2 linked regions of the Homo sapiens genome follow. Each later gene encodes a partner of the first gene's protein in a complex. Each region holds a gene or a part of one and is shown on either strand. Other genes may lie near its edges. The genes, in order: CDC40 and RBM22.

What was found.
Region 2: CDC40 (region 1) and RBM22 share a complex: the UniProt entries of both Homo sapiens proteins name them as parts of the postcatalytic spliceosome P complex.

The regions. Positions count from the first base shown.
Region 1 is NC_000006.12:110,175,845-110,184,689, forward strand, and holds the start of CDC40 (pre-mRNA-processing factor 17), read left to right. Parts: upstream 1-4,582; 5' UTR 4,583-4,600; coding exon 4,601-4,789; intron 4,790-8,845. UniProt on the Homo sapiens protein: Required for pre-mRNA splicing as component of the activated spliceosome. Plays an important role in embryonic brain development; this function does not require proline isomerization.
Region 2 is NC_000005.10:150,696,057-150,705,552, forward strand, and holds the start of RBM22 (pre-mRNA-splicing factor RBM22), read right to left. Parts: upstream 5,007-9,496; 5' UTR 4,930-5,006; coding exon 4,876-4,929; intron 4,442-4,875; coding exon 4,388-4,441; intron 3,216-4,387; coding exon 3,186-3,215; intron 2,576-3,185; coding exon 2,443-2,575; intron 836-2,442; coding exon 735-835; intron 650-734; coding exon 477-649; intron 1-476. UniProt on the Homo sapiens protein: Required for pre-mRNA splicing as component of the activated spliceosome. Involved in the first step of pre-mRNA splicing.

The sequences.
Region 1 (8,845 bases):
TCTGAAACTTATTTTTCCCATAGAAAGACTGTCATACAAATTATTATAGGTATTTTAATATACTTATGCTAATTATTAACATAATTTTATAATTTCTTTAGTATTAACATAATCCTATAATTCAGGTATTTTATTATTTAAATAGGCTTTAGTGGGCTGTCTGTGACTCTAACCACTAAGTATACTGTTTCTGAGAAAATAAGACTCAAGTTCCAAACCATTTTACAAGTTGTAAAATGTAATCAATTGTGTAGTAAGTTAGAACTACCAATTCACAAAGACTCAAAATTATAAGCTGAATGTGATAAACTTAAAACACAAGATTCTTAATTTTATAAAAAGTTCCACTTCAGGGGTCATTTATTTTTAACAACTAGGTACTCAAGCATTCAGCATAGGATTTAATTTACATATATCTTTTTTATTACTATTTCACTAGAAAACGTAAGTCACAAAGAATCAAACACACTTCTATCTAGTGTAGGAAAAACAAAAAATATGTTAACATACATCTTCATAAAGTGAGCTATAAGAAGAAAATTGTTAATATTTCATAAATCAAAGACTACTAACATATACATTATTAAGTATCTAGTGCCAGTTCAAAAGTGTACAGGTAATGGAATTATATCTGAGCAGGTAAATGGAGTTCAAAGAACCTTGAAATTCATTTTTCTCTTTTCTCCTGAGATAAAGTTATACATTTCATTAATTATAATGTTTGATAAATCTTTAAAAATGTTTCACTAAATATATTAATTCAATGGATATTCTTTACCCATTCATTTTATTTGTTCAACAAAGAAAATTGAGCCCCTGCTATTTGTTAAACACTATACTAACAACTTTGGATTTATGACAATAAGCTGCAGGTCAGTTTCTCTCCTCAAAGAACTAAGAAAAACCACGACTTTACTGCATTTACCCAAGTGACGGTGTCAGCTAAATTTTAATTCATTTAAGAAAACATTATAAAACAAATTCTCAAAAACGAAACCATACAATAGTAACTTTAAACACACTTTAATAGTCTTATCTATATGAAGTTTTCTCACAAAGTAACCAAAAGCACTGTTTTGGTAAAAGTGCTAATAACATAATCTTTTGATAGTAGTCCAATAAGGAAATCACAAGGTACTATGTACTGTGATAATGAAAATCCAACACTTGGAAAAGATATCTTAAGTTATTCCTAAAATAAAGCAAAATGTATAATTAAATATAGTCTTATACAATATTAAAACTGTCTCTGAATATATGAATATTTACAAACATGAGTAATAAAGTAACTCTATAGCATACCTTATAAATGATCACAACTATGTATTTTGGATTGTAACACCTGCAAATTTGTAACAAAAAGGGCCTTAATATTTTTCGAATATATTATTCTTCACTAACTTAATTCAATATTCTACTTATTATCAAGTCATAATTTTTGTTTACTATTAACTATTTTATCTATATGTTTAACTATATGTAGGTATTAACTGTAATAACCTTTATGTCTGCAATTATTTAAAACCCTTGATAGATGAGAAACATTTTTCAGTTCAGAGGCATACCTCTCCAAAGCAAAAATCAATGTTAATCAGCCATTCTAATATGCCATGGAAAATCCTGACATTTTTTCATTGTATTTTTCACAGAAATTTTTTAATCATTCATCAGCTAAAAGATTTAAATTTTCTTTAAAAGGACTACAAAAACACACCTTTCCTGAATTTATGCACACTACCTACTAAATATTATCTCCATTTACATATAAGGAAACCAAGGCACAAAGGTGTCCATTTTGTAAATTGCAAGGTCATTTCCTAACCAAGCAACTAATCCTACACCATCAACTTATATTATATGTACGCCACTTCCAAGTGCCATAAAACAATTACTATACCTTAAAACTGCCTCTGCAATGCTTATGTGATTCTCTTTTATCAAAAGGGTAAATGCAACAAGCTTAAACAAGGAAAGATGGAAAAGGAAAATTATAAAAATACAACACTTACTTTTTATAGTGAATCATTTATTTTTAAATAATGAGATGTAAACAGTTTTTAACATAAAAATCAAGTAACCAACAGTGGTTTCTTATATTTGCAAAAAAAAAAAAATTTCATCCTTCAGGTAGATCACGCAAAACTGAAGCCTACTCATACTTGTAGATTCAAGTTAGAAAAAAAAAAACTGGATTCTAAAACAAGTAATTAAATACATGATATTGCAAAGAAAAAAGTGAATAAAAAATAAAATCAGATAAATTAGGGAATGACTGATATGATGGTTAAAATCCTCATCTTAAATATTAAATCCTTCCATTCAATGGAAGGCAACGATTAGTAATGACATATTCTGCTACCGAAAAACAAATACAAAACTTTTCTTATTCAAAACTTCCGAAATTTTATATCAAATACTTCATTCAAATATTCAATATAAACAAAAATGTTTCCTAACAGAAACTTAGAGCATAAAGGATAAACTGTTCCTGAGAGTTCAAATTGAGACTGCATTTCTAATTATGATATAATGCTATGAACAATCAGAAAAATGAATGTTACCTACCATGCAAATTTAAATTTAAGAACATTAGACGGATTGAATAACCAATAAGTCAATTACATCAATTAGTGAACAGAAAAAAGACCTTAGCTAATCGTGAATCTAACACCAAAGAAAAAATTTAAGTCGAATCCACCGCACATCTTATTACATAGAAAAGGAAATGATTAGAGTAAGTCGTATTTAAGTACCTAGTCTAGCTGGGGATCAATTAATTAATCGGTTATAGGGCAGGACGTGAATGTTGAGATCGGATGTGCTTTCTTTCATCGTTATTCCAGTTCATCATCCGCAAGTGCAAGAGAAGGTGTCAGAGTACCGAAGCTAGGGGGCATGCTGTAGCAAGGGGAAAAGAAAAATGGGAAAGGTGCAATGGATGCTGCATAGTTGAATAATTATCTGGGTGGCACAATGGGCGAGTCCTGCCGACATGAGCGCTGAGTGAGCGGCTCCGTAACTCTGCCCAAGGCAGCCCCCATGAACAGGCACCAGAAGCGACAGCACCGCTTCGCCTCCCCTTCCAACGAAGAAAAGGATGCCCGCACTCGCTTTACCGTTATGTTTTCAGACACCGACTCGCGGAGCAAACACGCAAACGCACGAGCTCGCTTTACCGAGCCTCGCGCACGTAGGGCGAGCAGGGGATTCTCTGTCGCCCGGGGCTACCGCCTCCCCCGGAAAGAGGCACGGGGCGGACCGCGGGCGCGGGTGGGCAGGGAAGCCCGGGCGGTGGCACCTCAGGTGACACCCACAGTCTCTCCAGCGAGAGCAGCCCCGGGGCGGTCCCTGCAGCCAAGCCCCAGGCGCGCCCGCCGCCGTCTCCCTCGGCACCCAGCCCCGCTGGCGGGTGGGCGGTGGGCGCTCGGAAAACCCGCGGATGGGGGTGGGGGCCGGGGCGGGGAAGGCGCGCCCATCCATCCCCGTCACCTTTGCGGGCCACACACCACTCGGTCTGCTCCGGCCAGTAAGGAAGAGTTCCTCTCCCAACACCCCCTCCCCGAAAAAAGCAATTCCTCAGGGACTCGCGCTCACCGTGAAATCTTGGGGGCTCACGCCTTACCCCTTCTTCATGCTTCGGCAGCGGTCGCCGGTCCCCCTCGGCTCGCGGGACTCCGCCTAGAGCCCCCAGGAGGGTCGGGCTCTGGGGCGGAACCCGCTCAGGGCAGCGGCCCAGGCGCCAGGCCACAGGGAACGCCGCCTGGGGCGCCAACCCGCCGCCGGACCCACCGTGTGCTCGACGCGCGAGTGAACAACACCGCGAGCTGCCGTTCCCCCCGCCCCCTCCCCGCGCGAGACGCTCCACAACCGGGCGCAGGGACCCGCGCCAGAAGCAGGGGGGACCGCGAGACTCTTTCCGCCTATGGTCCCATCCTTGCCCCCCGCCCCAGGAGCTATTCCTGGCCAGTCAGAGGTCTCAAAACTTCAGATTCTCACTTTCCTCTTCAGCCTCCAGTGCCCAGGTGCAGCCGAGGTGGGAAATCCAGCCTCCGCCCACTCCCCCATTAGTGGGGCCGAAGCTCGCTCTTCCCCCCTTTCCTGAGGTTCTGTGGTATTGCCCAATCCTCAGTTTGGGGGAGGGGGACGAAGAGAACACTGCTTGGCTAGGGAATGAGGGAAGATGATAGCCAATTGAATGGAACATCCATTCGGGGGCGGGGTCAAAGGGGGACACGCCCCCGTTCCGCCCCCTCGTTGCAAACTACACTTCCCATTGTGCCCTCTCGCGCTTCCTGCCGCGCTGCACGCTGGGAGTGCAGGACCGCGAGGCCTCAAGGTATTTTGGAACTCATATTCTTTAGTCAACTAGGTCCTAAATGTTATAAACTATTATAATTCTCCCTTTTTCCCTAGATAAACTTTTTTAAGCTCTCAGCTCGACAGTAGTTATTCTAATAATAATTAGCTTATTGTTTCAAAATGTAAGACATTATTTCTTAGCAAAGAAAGTTAATGATGTGTTCCATTGCAATCTGTCAGGACCTGGGAGCCTCTTCTTCTTCCGCCCTGGCAGGGTCTCCGCAGAAGATTTGTTGCCGTCATGTCGGCTGCGATTGCAGCTCTGGCCGCTTCCTATGGTTCGGGTTCAGGGTCCGAATCGGACTCGGACAGTGAGAGCAGTCGGTGTCCGCTGCCAGCCGCCGACTCCCTCATGCACTTGACTAAATCGCCTTCATCAAAGCCGTCTCTAGCAGTGGCAGTGGACTCGGCTCCGGAGGTGGCAGTTAAGGTAAGCACTTTTGCTACTAATGCAGTGTGGGAATTGTTGGCTTCAGCTCCAGAACTGCCAGCCGCTTGTTAGGTACCGGGTTACCTCTTTCTCAGTGCTCAGAGATAAGTTGCTAACGTTTGAATTTCTTCTCCTTCCCACATGCATCCTCGGGAGAGGCAGAATTGGAAGTTCGGAATAGCCCTCCGATGCTCTCTGCCCTTGCCTCCCGCCATCAGAAAGCAAGTGGAAGGAGGGGATGAAATTTGAATTTGTGGATTAGGGACATAGCCTGGAAAGTGCAGGTGTAATCTCGGAACATAAGTGAAATTAGATCAGGACTTCCCAAACTAGAGTATTGTGTGAGCAGTGGCCTCGATTTGTCTTATTTTTGAAGAACTAGGTTCTAATCCTGGCACCACCACTTGTGTGAACTTGGACAAGTTATGCAGCCTCCTTTCTTTCCTCACCTGTACAGTGGAGATCATTTTCAAAACATCTGTCTACATGAAAAGATGAGTGTGAAAATTGAGTGAAATTACACAAATAAAGCATATAGCACAGAGCCAACTAGTGAGAGTGCAGTAAATGTTTTATGATTGTGTGTGTTAATACAGTGAGAAAAAGGCCTTGGATTTGAGAAACAGCTGCATGATCTCAATGGAGGAAGCTGATTAATAAGGCAAGAGTTTCCAGGCAGAGGTGACAGGCAAGCCTGAGAACGCAAAGAGCCTAGTGGGTTTGAAGAACTGAGGAAAAGCTGATGTGTCTGGAGCCTGATGAGAGCATCTACCAATTGGTAGTGTAGGCCCAGTAGAGCCCGAGGTAGGTGATCAGCTCAAGATGTGAAGAGGGGAGGCGGTGTCCAAAAATTCCTTTGTATCATGTCCCCAAGTCTAGTTTAATGACTTAAGAAGTGTTTTACAGGTTTTTAACAAGCTGTATGTGAATTTTACTTTTTAAAAATGGACATCTGTCATGAAAGAATGCTTAGAATCCTCCTAACTTCCTATCAAAACAAAACTTTCCAAACTTAAGCCCCTCCAGTAACCTCCTGAGTCTTCTCCTTTCACAGCTCAGCTTTTTGGAGCTCTCTTTTTGTCTTCGTCTCATTTTCTCCTCAACCCAATGCAGTCTGGCCCTATCCTCTTGGGAAACTACTGTCTGTGAGTGATGTCCCAGGCCTTCCAGTTGTCAAGTTCAGCCATCTGACTTAAATGTCTGCATCAAATGACACTGTTCATTAGTTCCTCTTTCTTGAAACTTTCTCTCCGTTTCGCTTCCATGGGGCTCTACTCAGCATTCTGTTCCAATTATTTTACTCTCCCTTTTCAATACTGGTGTTTCCCAGGACTCTGCTCTTAGTCCTCTTTGCATTCCACATATTCTCCCATACCTTCAACCTCAGGCTGTGCTGCTTCTAGCTCAAGGTGAACACCGTGAAATGGTTAGCACAGGCTCTGGAATTAAGACTGTAATTCAAATCCTGCCTCCAGCACTTACCCACCTGGGGACCTTGGATAAGTTACTTAAATGCTCTGTACCTAATTTTTGCTGATCTGTAAAGTAGGAATAACAGTAGTACCTATCTAACAGAATTATAATAATTGTCATAAAAGATGTAAAGCCCTTTTAACAGTGCCACACACAATGAACACTAATTAAATGCTTGCTATCCTTTTATTTCCAGTTCTATCCTCCTTGCTAGCTTACGATCTTGAGAGGTATATAAAAATCTCCCACAGTAATTGTACATTTGTCTTTTGCAGGTTGGCGCTCAGCCACCTCCAATTCAGTGTGTCGAAAAATTATTTTCTTTCCCTCAAAATCCACTTCTGTTTTTCCTATTTTGATCTGTCATCCCACAATCCACCCACTAGTTGAAGCCGAGAACAAAGAAGGTATCCTTTTCTCTTCCTTCTTCCTCAGCCCCTGAAGCTAGTCATTCAATTGATTCTAACATTGCTGTTTCATTAATTTCTCTCACATCAACTCCTTCCTTGCTATTTTCACTGGTGCAGGCTTCATATCTTCCTTATTTCTCCCAGGAGTTATTCTTTTCTTTCTCTTTCAGCCTTTTTGGGTAGTGGGTTCTGTCCACTTTAACTCAATGATATTCATCAAATCTCTCTCTTCTGCTGCCACTGTTTAGTTCAGATTCTCATCATTTCTCTTCAGACAGTTGTAGCCTTCTAACTGATCTTTCTACTTCTTCCTTTCTTGTCTCCCAGTTTTATACCCCATTCTTTTCTCCACAGTGCACTTAGAATGATCTTTGTAAATTCCACTTACATCGTATCACTTCCCTGCCCAAAGACACCATGTTGTCCAATGGGTGATTTCTAAGTTTTTTTGGTAGCATGTGAGTCCTGCTATTCTCCCATGCTGAACTCTTTACAAAGCCCTGAAAGCCGAATTTTCTTTCTTCCTCTGAAGATTTTGCCCACGCTAGTCTTTCTGCCTGGAAATCCCTTGCCTAGTGCCTCCTTCCCCCACTCCAAACACTGTGGTCCTTCAGTCTCAGTGTATATGTTTCCTCCTATTTTACCTTAGCCCCTTTATCATATCTTAACTATAGCACTTAGCACATTGCTGTAACTTGTTCATCTTTTTCTTTCCTCTGGACTGTGAGACCCTGGGGTCCAGAGACTGTTGTATCCATTCGTTTGTGTCTCCAGTGCCTAGTACACAAGATTAGGGAAGTATATTTGGTAAGAGAATGGAATGAAAAAGAAAGTCTTGTAAAAGTATGCACATTAAGAATCAGAATTTTAGAGCTGGACATGCAGTGGCAGGGATGGGGGTGTTTGTCTAGAGCTCACTTAGTGCAATCACGAATAAATAAGGGAACCCAGGAGGAAAGGCTGCGTAAGGTACCAGAAGTCCATTAGAGGTAGAGCTGGGGCTAGTCCACCCAGTGGTCTGGGTTCTATGAGAGCGTAGAGGGCATTGCTCATTGTTGGTTTATGAACCAACACTTGTTTATATGAAGGGAAAACAAACTTACACATAGTAAATATAATGATTGCAAATGATTGGAAAATTGGAAAATGACCAAGGGAGATGTGAAGCATGCAAATATATTCATCTGTAGTTGACTAATTGTATTATGATTAATAGCAAGCATTTTGGCAGAGAATACATTTTTGCAGCGTTTTTAATCTATGTTTTTTCCGAGCTGTTTCCTGCAGTTGAGTATCTTTTAATATGTTATTGGTGATTTAATTTTTTTTTCTTTGGAAGCAACTATTGGGTTGTCATTTCCTTTTGATTTTTAGAAGACCTTTACATATTCTGGATACTATCCTTTGTCAATTGTGTGTGTTGCAAATTTTTTTTCTTTTGTGACTTGTCTTCTCACTTTTCCCTGTTGTTTACAAACAATTATTTATGTAGTCTGTGCTTGTCAAATTATTCCTTTATGTATCGGGTTCCTGTTGCTTGTTTGAGAAATCCTTAACTCATAGTCATGAAAATATTCTCTTGTATTATCTCTTGAAAGCTTTTCACATTTAAGTCATTAATCCATATGAAATTAACTTTTGTCTATAGTGCGAACATTCTTAATAATATGGCTTGATAGGTGATAGGGCAGTTCCCTTGCCCTTTTTTGTTGGCTCTTCTTGGCCCTGTAATTCTATATACAGTTTAGAATTAAGTTGGAAAGTTCTGCTAATACCCAGTTGGGATTTTGTTTGGGAGTACATTGAGTCATAGGTCAACTTGGAGATAATGTTATGTCCGTTCATTTGTTTAGGCCTTTTTTTAGTTTTGTTTTTTTTTTTCTCCCAAAGTTTGTAATTGTCTCTGTATCAAAATCTTGTACAGTTTTATTGGAGGTATTTCTCGGTGGATCTTATTTTTATGCTGTTAATAAACAGTATTGTATTTTTCATTTATTTAACTTTCTAACTTAACTACTATGTAAGTACTTTCTACTACTTACATAGCCATATCAGCTGCAAATATGACAGTATTTTTTCTTTCTTTTAATCATTATTTCTTTTATTTATTGTTCTTGCCTTGCCATGCTTACTACCGCCTCCAGGAAGATCTAAAATAAAAATAAAAAGGATG
Region 2 (9,496 bases), on another chromosome or scaffold:
TATTCCACTGAGAATCTGATTAAAGCTATGAACCTCGCCCCAGAGAAAGCACATACATTATTTTTTAGGGGGTGGGGTTAACCAATCCCAAATTAAGAACTCCTAATCCAGATGCTTGGCAGTCTTAACCAAAACATACACACCCTTTAGAAGTCTGACCTTACTTTGACTTCAACTATACATTGAGAGTCAACTCATTTAAACCATGGCAGTGAAGATTTACTTCTCAGGCAGAAATGTTTAGGGTCAGCATCTATATTGTATGGCATAGCAATTTAGTTTCCAAGGCTCAATTGTAAGTAAAAACTACAATTTATTCATGCTCTTCTAAATTTCATAGTTCTAAGACATGAGGTATACCACATTAGTTGTATGACCTTTAGATTTTAAAGCAGAAACAGTTTAAGTTAGGACCTCCCACTTCTTAGATGAGAAATCATCTGAAAGCAAATACTGAAAATGAGGCTCGCTCTTGCCTGTATGGACATTCCTCTCCTCTCTTACACTCTCCTTTCACCCAGAAGGAGCAAATGTGGGGTCGATTCCTTTTGTAGTAGGGTGTGGTCCGGGCCAGTTTGAGCAGCATGTCACTGGTAGATGTGGCTTTCCCCAGCATGCCAACTGGCCGTGTTCCATCAGAGTTAGAAATCTAAGTGGGGATGACAAATTCAAAAGATAAATTATACAGACTGTGTCAATTCATTAGGATTTTTATCCAAAAAGTGGCAGCATACCTCTCTCTCCATATTCTGTGTATAGTACTCTTTGTTGACATCTGACTTTGGCATGTCATCTTTAAAAGACAATCCTGCGTCACGAACCTGGATGGGCAGGCCTGGTACAAAAAAAGAGGAAAAAGACCTCAGATGTATTTTAAAACATATCCATACTAACCATGCACACAGAATACATCATCTTTCCCTTCTCCTCTTTCCTATTTAGTACCAGAGACTTTACTATGTTTTTATTCAAACTCTTTAGCACCATCAGGTTACTTCTGCTACACAGCATGCTAAGAAATTGTCCAAATTCCTGAACTGTCAGGAAATTTGATGAAATTAATGCTTTAGAAAAAATCTTTTAGGCTGGGTGTGGTGGCTCATGCCTGTAATCCTAGCACTTTGCAAGGCTGGAGCTGACAGATAGCTTGAGTCCAGGAGTTCGAGACCAGCCTGGTCAACGTGGTGAAACCCCATTTCTACAAAAAATACAAAAATTAGCTGGGTGTGGTGGTATGCACCTGTAGTCCTAGCTACCCAGGAGGCTGAGGTGGATCACCTGAGCTTGGAAAGGTTAAGGCTGCAGTGAGCCATGACCATGCCACTGCACTCCAGCCTGGGCAACAGAGTGACACCCTGTCTCAAAAACAAAAAACAAAAAAATTATAAAAGAAAATTTTTAGATGAACAAACTGTGCCCATGGTCATATTCAACCTGTAAATTAGCTCCTAGTTTTTATTACAACATGATTTATTTAAAGTAAATGTAAAAGTGGTTTCTTTCTAGGTTAGTCTTACAGATCCTCTGGATAGTCACAGTCATCTAAGGGTCACTGTACTCCAGGACCAGACGCCTCCTTAACAAACATATAAATAATATTACATAAAATGTGGCCAGGACTCTGACTAGAAGAGTAACTCTAATGAACTTAACATACATAAACTCATATATTTTTCCCTTTCCTTTAATAGTAAAAACTCTTGTTGAAAAATTATCTTTCTGAAAAACAGTCACCTATGGTTAAAAAAAAAATTACTCCCAAAAGCAGTTACTCTGAAACAGTAGCAATATATCAGTTCTAACAACACAATTGAAATAAAAGTCTAAAGCACAATTAGGCTGGCTATAGTGGCTCTGGGAGGCCAAGGTGGGAGGACTGCTTGAGGCCAGAAGCTCAAAACCAGCCTGGGCAAAATAGTGACACACACACACACGTGCACTGGGTGTGGTGGTATACCAGGAGGCAGAGGCAAGAGGATCCCTTGAGCCCAGGAGTTCGAAGTTGCAGTGAGCTGTGATCACACCACTGTACTCTAGCCTGGGTGTCAGAGTGAGACCCTAACTCAAAAAATAAAATAAAATAAAGCACAATTACCCTGTGAGCTTCTGATTGGGATGGTGGAAAAAAGCTCTGGATCAAGAAAGAAGCCTAAGGCAAATAAATTATCTATCATAGGATCAACGCCTTTTACCTCACTTGGGCTACAGAGATGAAGGTTTAGGCCACTTTTGATTAATTCCCAACTTTTCCTTAAGTTCCTACTATTGTTCAGGACTCTAGAGTGGCCTAATTATGGTTCTTTTCCTGGGAAAAGCAGACCACGGCAGACATTCCAAAGTGAAATCAGAACCAGAGCTAGGGTGCGAAGTGGGAGACAAAAGACTGACTTGTAGTTTTAGGCACCTGCACACTTTCAGATTTATTGGACAGGTCAAACATACCATACTCTAGGTCTAAGAGGCAGGTCTGACAGACATTCTTCAATTTACTGCAGGTTTGGCACACTTCAGTCTTCTTGAAACGCATGCGGACTCCAGGGCACCAGCGAAACACTGTGAATGGCCTGGCACAGATCTGGAACACAAAGCAAGAGCCATAGAATGTCAATGGTCCTGATCTGGGCAATCTGGAGATCTGATAACAACGGGGCATTCAAAAAAGGATCCCTGAATGTAGGATTTAGAAGAGACCTTAGCAATCATCTAGTTGATTTGATGTTTCAATACAATTTTCAGCATCCTTCTCCAGCAAAAATTCAGAGTACAGAAATGAAATAGCCAAAGGGTCAAAGTTCTTCCCATCCTAGAGCTAAGCACCAATAATAATCTGAACCTTAATCTTTTTTAGGGGGAGTGGGGAGTGTCATGTAATTTTTTGAGAAGCTTCTGACAAGAATGACCTTCCTCCTCAGCTAAAATGCTCGAGTGGACAGTCATACACCACCTGGTGTACAAACTCCTCCAGTGCCCATCCACTGACACCGTAAGAATCTCTACATTAGAGGGTTCATTTTCTTACCTCCCACATAAACAGTTGCCAGCCAATGAATATATCAGTAATACATAAAAAGTTGTATAGCACTGATTTTTACTGGAAGACCTCAAAACTTAGTAAGCTGAAGGCTAATTTGGTAGAGAAAAGAAAAATGAAACAGAAATCATTACTCTTTAACAGACATACTTACTTTGCATTCCTTCCCATACTTTTCTTTGGTCTATAATAGAAAAAAAATAGAAAAGAACTGGAGTTACAGAAAGAAAAAAGCCAGATGTCTACTCTTTCCTTAAACATAACCCAAGAAATGTGTCTGGAAATCCCTGGCATCCTAGAGAGAGAAAAACAGCAACAACAAAACCCAAAACCCAACCTTTTTTGGGAAGAGGGTAGGGAACATACTATAACAACATATTATAAGTGATAACATCTCAAGAGTATATGGATCTGGGCTGGGTGGCAGTGGCTCACGCCTGTAATCCCAACACTTTGAGAGGCCAAGGTGGAAGGATTGCTTGAGCCCAGGAGTTCCAGACTAGCCTGGGCAACATAGCGAGATGCTGTCTCTACAGAAAAAAGAAATAGAGTATATGCATCTAATGCTAGGTAAGTGAGTGTCTTTCCACAGCCACAACTCTTAGGTTCATTTTTGGCTCCCAAGTTCACTCCCAAGAACTAACATTCCTAATGCTTTCCACAATCCCTAAATCAGAGAGGATACAGCTGTGGCCCGCCCACTTTACAAAGTTTAGTCAAAAGGTAGCTACTGTAGACTTGTCCTGTGCCAATGCCCGGAATATAGTAAATGTTCTGTTTAAACAGAACTATTCAAACATCTTGAACCATTCAAACATCGTGAACATACTAACATATCAACACCTCTACGACTACACAATAATACAGCCCTAACCTTATTATTGTTAACTGGTTCTAATTTTACCCTAGTTTGTAACAAAGGGGGAATGCTTACTTTAAAGAGATAAAGTACACTGGCCAAAAGGCATTTGACCAGGATTCAGGAAACCTAGTTTCTAGTTCTGGTTCTCCTCCTATCATGCTGACATTCCTAGAGCCAGAATATGTGAACTTAAATCCCAGCTCCATTCCTTACTATTGTATGAAAAGACACAAACGCTCTCACCTTCTGGTCAACAGACCTATTTCCTAGGTAAATGCTCAACAAATACTAGCTATCGTTATTACCCCTACATTACAGGAGTGTTACCGGATTCGTAAGAGAATACACATGACAGTTCTTTGCAAGTCGTCCAGCACTTCGCGTTAGTAAAAGAGCATCATTTTTTCTGCTTGTCTAAGAGAAACACTTCACAGTGTGCAAGTACCACAACATCGACAGGACATGAATAACTCGTTTCACACGCGATCACTCACCATTCGGATATATGGGTTTTCTCCAAGACATGTCTGGCACAGAATGGGGAAGTCCTGGTGAAAATGGGAAATCTGGTTGAGGACCACCCTCCGAAGACCCTGACACCTCAGTGACACTTGGGGTGGCGAGGGGGCGGGAAGCGAGGGTGGGGAACTAGGCACGGCAGGAACCCGAAGTCCATCACGACCCGATCGCGGGAGGGGGCGCTGTCTGCACTTCCGGCAGGCGGCGGGAGAAAAGAAAACCAGCTCTAATAGGCTGGAGGGGGCAGGGATGGAAAGGGTGCTGGTCCCGGGACCCTGGCTAAGCCCCCTCCCTTCAAGCCCGCAGGAGGATCGCCCTCCGCCCTCCTGCTCCGGCCAAGCTAGGCCGCCGCGCTGGCTCCTCCCCGGTATTCCTTCGGCCGCGCCGCAGGCCCTGTCCTGCCAGCTTGCAAGGTGCGCGGCTTCGCCTCCTCCTTCCATCCTCCTCCGGCAGGCACACTCACCGCATCCTCCCAGTTCTGCCTGTTGTAGGTGTTGGAACCCAGAGAGGTCGCCATCTTGAGAGCGTCCGGAGGTAGCTGTAGCTTCCGAATTGGGAGAGAGGACCGCCACAATCCCGTCAAGCCCCGAGGCTAGCGCCGCGCCGGTCGGCGTCTTATTTACGCGTCTAGGGCTTCTTCCGGGGCGGGGCCTTTGCGTCATGACGTCGCCCGCTCTTGGAATTTCTAAGCTTAACAATTGGGGTCCTGGTATAATGCACCTGGATGCTTCCTTCGAGTTTTTGCCTGCTTGGAATGAAGGGCCACACGTACAGTTGATTCATTTAACAATTGGGCGAAAGAATAAAGGAAGACGTAATGCATCAGAGGCTGGGGTTAAAATAGCGTTCGCTACCACTGAGGCGCTTATTATGCCAAACTCTGGGCGAACGTCTTGCGGTTCCAGTGTCTTATTTATTCGCATAACCTCTCTGTAGGGCTCTCTGTAGGGCTGCCAGATTCTGATTCTGTCTCTCTCTCTCTCTCTCTCTCTCTCTCTCTCTCTCTGTCACTCACACACACACATGCACACACACACACGCACGAATTACAGAACGTCTAAAGTTGAATTTCAGATTAACGGCGAATCGCTTTTTAATTATAAATATATATGGTACCTACTCGTCCTAAAGTAGGATTCGTGGTTGACCTGAAATTCACATCACTTAACCAATCGTCCTGTATTTTATCTGGTAACTCTACCCTGTAGGCAAGTATGATGATCCCTCTTTTATAGAAAAGAAAACAGGTTTAGAGAGATTAACCTAATCTCTCCTGATATAGCTCCTGGTTGTGGAGCTAAAAAGTGGTGAAGCCACAAATTCATTAGTACTGTTTCATTTCCAGCTTCTGAAATGACAAGGGTCTTACGAATCAACATATGCATTATTTGATTTTTGGAATAACTCATAACCACTCTGCCAATATTTTATGAGTTTCAAGCCATTCTGGTACCACTTTCATACTTACCGTGTCATCAAGCTACCTAACACATTTATTTAAATCACCTCATTAAAAAAAAAAGTTGATTTAAAGTATAATTTACATAAAGTTTTATCCTTTTTAGTTTTGAATTTTGTACATACATTCACTTACAGTCAAATATGGAATTGTCTGTCATCCCCAAAGTTCCCTTGTTTCTGTAGTTAGTCCACTTATCCCATACTCAAACCATGGCAATCACTAATTTGTGTTCTGTCCCTAGTTTTGCCTTTTCCAGAATGTCACATAAGTGGAATCCTATATATCCTTTTGGATCTGATATTTTTTCACTTAGTATTTTGTAGTTGAGATTCATCCATATTATTACATGTATCAATAATTTCTTCCTTTGTATTACTGAGTAGAATTCCATTGTATGGATATATCATACAATTCACTTGCCAGTTGCTGGATATTTGGGTTGTTCCCAGATTTTAGTGAATATAAATAAAACCATTATAAACATTCACATACAGATCGTTGTATGGACATTGGTTTTCATTTTGCTTGTGTAAATGCCTTAGAGTGAGATTATTTGATCATATGGTAAGTATATCTTTTCCTTTATAAGAAAGTCCTTGGGTTTATCTGAGCTTCTTGGATCTGTGATTTGTTGTCTTTTATTATATTTGGAAAATTCTCAAGTATCATCTCTTCAGACTGTCTTCTGCCTGGTTTCTACATCTGTGACTCCAATTTCACATGCCTTGTGAGGAGTGCAAGGTCAGAAATAACAGAGTCCACGTACATTTGTGTTTTTCCACAATGCCAGACTTTTACTGATGCTATTTCAATCACAAAAGCCACGAACTACATGGAGTTTCCAAGAAAGCAATTCTCCTTAGTACTTCCCACTCACTCAGCACTCAGAGTCTTGGACACACAGGCTCAAGGCACTCCACAGGTCAATCAATATTGCAAATCATGCATAATGGTATACTTAATCAACATATATATTATAGAGTGAACATTCCACAAACAAAATAACATTTAACATTAAGAGAAAAGAGATAGGACCCTTTTCTCCTTTAAGTCTGGAGCCCTCAGAATCATCTCCTTTCCTTCCTTTTTCCCTCTTTCCTCCCCCAATTTATTTTTTAATCTTTGTGGGACATGACTTCTAGGAATGAGCCTTCCTAGCAACATGGAACATGACTTCCTAGGAATGAGCCTTCCTAGTAACGTGAGACCTGAATTTCCTGGAATAAACCATCCTAGCGACAAGAAACCAGCTCAAAAAAGGAGGAAAAAGCGAACTGAGGCCAGGAACACATATTCCTTTTAAAATGCTTTCTCCAAAAGATGTTAAAGAAAAAAAGGGGGAAATGTGAAAGGAAATTAAATCTTGGGACCCCAGACTCATTAAGCCAAAGGGAAAAGTCAAGCTGGGAAGTGGGTCACACAAACCTGCCTCCCGCTTTTGGTTCCTAAATAAGATGGCTACAAGATGGAAAGCTACATGCCTCCCCCATATTTTGCCCACAAGGAAATTCCTAGTGAGGAATTTTACTTTCCTAGAAAGGAAAAAAGAAAAGAGATGAAAAAATATATATAGGGACTAGGCCAGATTTATAGCAACAAAAGGAAAGCAAACCTGGAAGCTGGGTCAAGCTTTATTATATTACTGCCTCCTCAATTAAAGCAATTCTCTGGGCAATCATTACCTTAGCCCTTTCGGTTGCATATTGACTTATTTGCAAACACGTACTATAACAACATTGTAAGCAGAAACAGGACAGAACATAAATTATTCCTTCTATTATAAGCAATAGCTTCTGCCACTAAATTCCCCAGGATCCAAACCAACCACTCAAGCAATGGATTAGTGAGGGTTTTGGATCTGACAGTTGCTTATCTGGGTTTTCATACTGGTCATAATTCAGTTTATGTTCTTTGATTCATCTGGAATATACACACAACATTCAGTTTTTACGGTGGCACAGGTTCCCCTTGTGCTGCCATGAGTATATCTAAAGCCACATAGTTTTGCAACACAGCTTTCCTCATAAGCATGACCTCATTGCTTAGCAAAGAGGTACTCATGCAGCTACCATTTAGGGCCTTTGGGTGTAATTCGTTATGGCCTCTATATGCCATATAACATCTTCGATACCTATCTGTGGTACAAAGATTGAAGCTAAGTGATCATAGCACTGGAATACCAAACATGTCCAATGAGATTGTAAATGAAAAAGGTTTGCTGGTTTAATGGAAGGGTCTGAATTACTGGGCAACATATGGGGGAGGCATGTAGCTTTTCATCTTATAGCCATCTTATTTAGGAACCAAAAGCAGGAGGCAGGTTTGTGTGACCCAGTTCCCAGCTCGACTTTTCCCTTTGGCTTAATGAGTTTGGGGTCCCAAGATTTAATTTCCTTTCACAATATATATAATCCATATTTTCCTTTTCTTTTTTTTCGAGATGGGGGTCTCACTTTGTCACCCAGGCATGATCATAGCTCACTGTTACCTGGAATTCTTGGGTTCAAGGGATCCTCCAGCCTTAGCCTCCCAAGTAGCTGTGACTATAGAAGCAGGCCACGGTGCCCAGCTAATTTTTAACTTTTTTGTAGAGACAGGGTCTCACCATGTTGCCCAAGCTGGTCTCGGAACTCCTGGGCTCAAGTGATTCTCCAGCCTTGGCCTCCCAAAGTGCTGGGATTACAAGTGTGAGCCATGGCACCTGGCTCCATGTTTTCCACCAGATTTTTTAACATTGTAGGGGCCAACAGAAAAGTTCCCCTTTGCCCTCTTAAGATTCACTGAAAATTAACTAGCAAAAGGCAGATTAATAGGAGAAAAGACATACAAATTTATTTGATCATAGTTTTACCTGACATAGGAGCCTTCAGAATGAAGACACAGATGGGAAATTGTCCATTTATATGCCTAGGTTCAACAAAGTATGGACAGCTATGTAGAAATAGGATTGGACAAAAAGCGTACTGATTTAGCGCTAATAGACTGAGTGGGGAAACCCAGCGAGGCCTGTCTGTCTAGATTCTTGGCCTCTCTCGGCAGCATTCCTTCCTTCTGGGTATGTACAGGACCGTCTTTGGAATGGGGGTCTTATGACCTACAATCTAAAACAAAGTAGCTCAGATAATTTATTCAGAGCCAGTTTTTACACAAAAGCAAGGCGGAAGTTAGAGTAGTTTTTTTTTTTTTTTTTTTTTTTGAGACAGAGTCTTGCTCTGTCGCCCAGGCTGGAGTGCAATGGTGCGATCTCGGCTCACTGCAACCTCCACCTCCCAAGTTCAAGTAATTCTCCTGCCTCAGCCTCCTGAGTAGCGGGGATTACAGGCACGCACCACCATGCCTGGCTAATTTTTGTATTTTCAGTAGAGACAGGGTTTCATCATGTTGGTCAGGCTGGTCTCGAACTCCTGACTTTGTGATCCACCTGCCTCTGCCTCCCAAAGTGCTGGGATTACAGGTGTGAGCCACCGCGCCCGGCCTAGAGTAGTATTTTACATTTTATGGCTGGCTTTGGGGAAAAGGGGTTCTCTCTATGACCCACCTTGAGGAAAAGGGATTCAGTGTCTGTGGCTAGGCTTGGGGAAGAATGAAGGGCCAGAGACAGGAAGGCAGAAGGTCAGAGAGA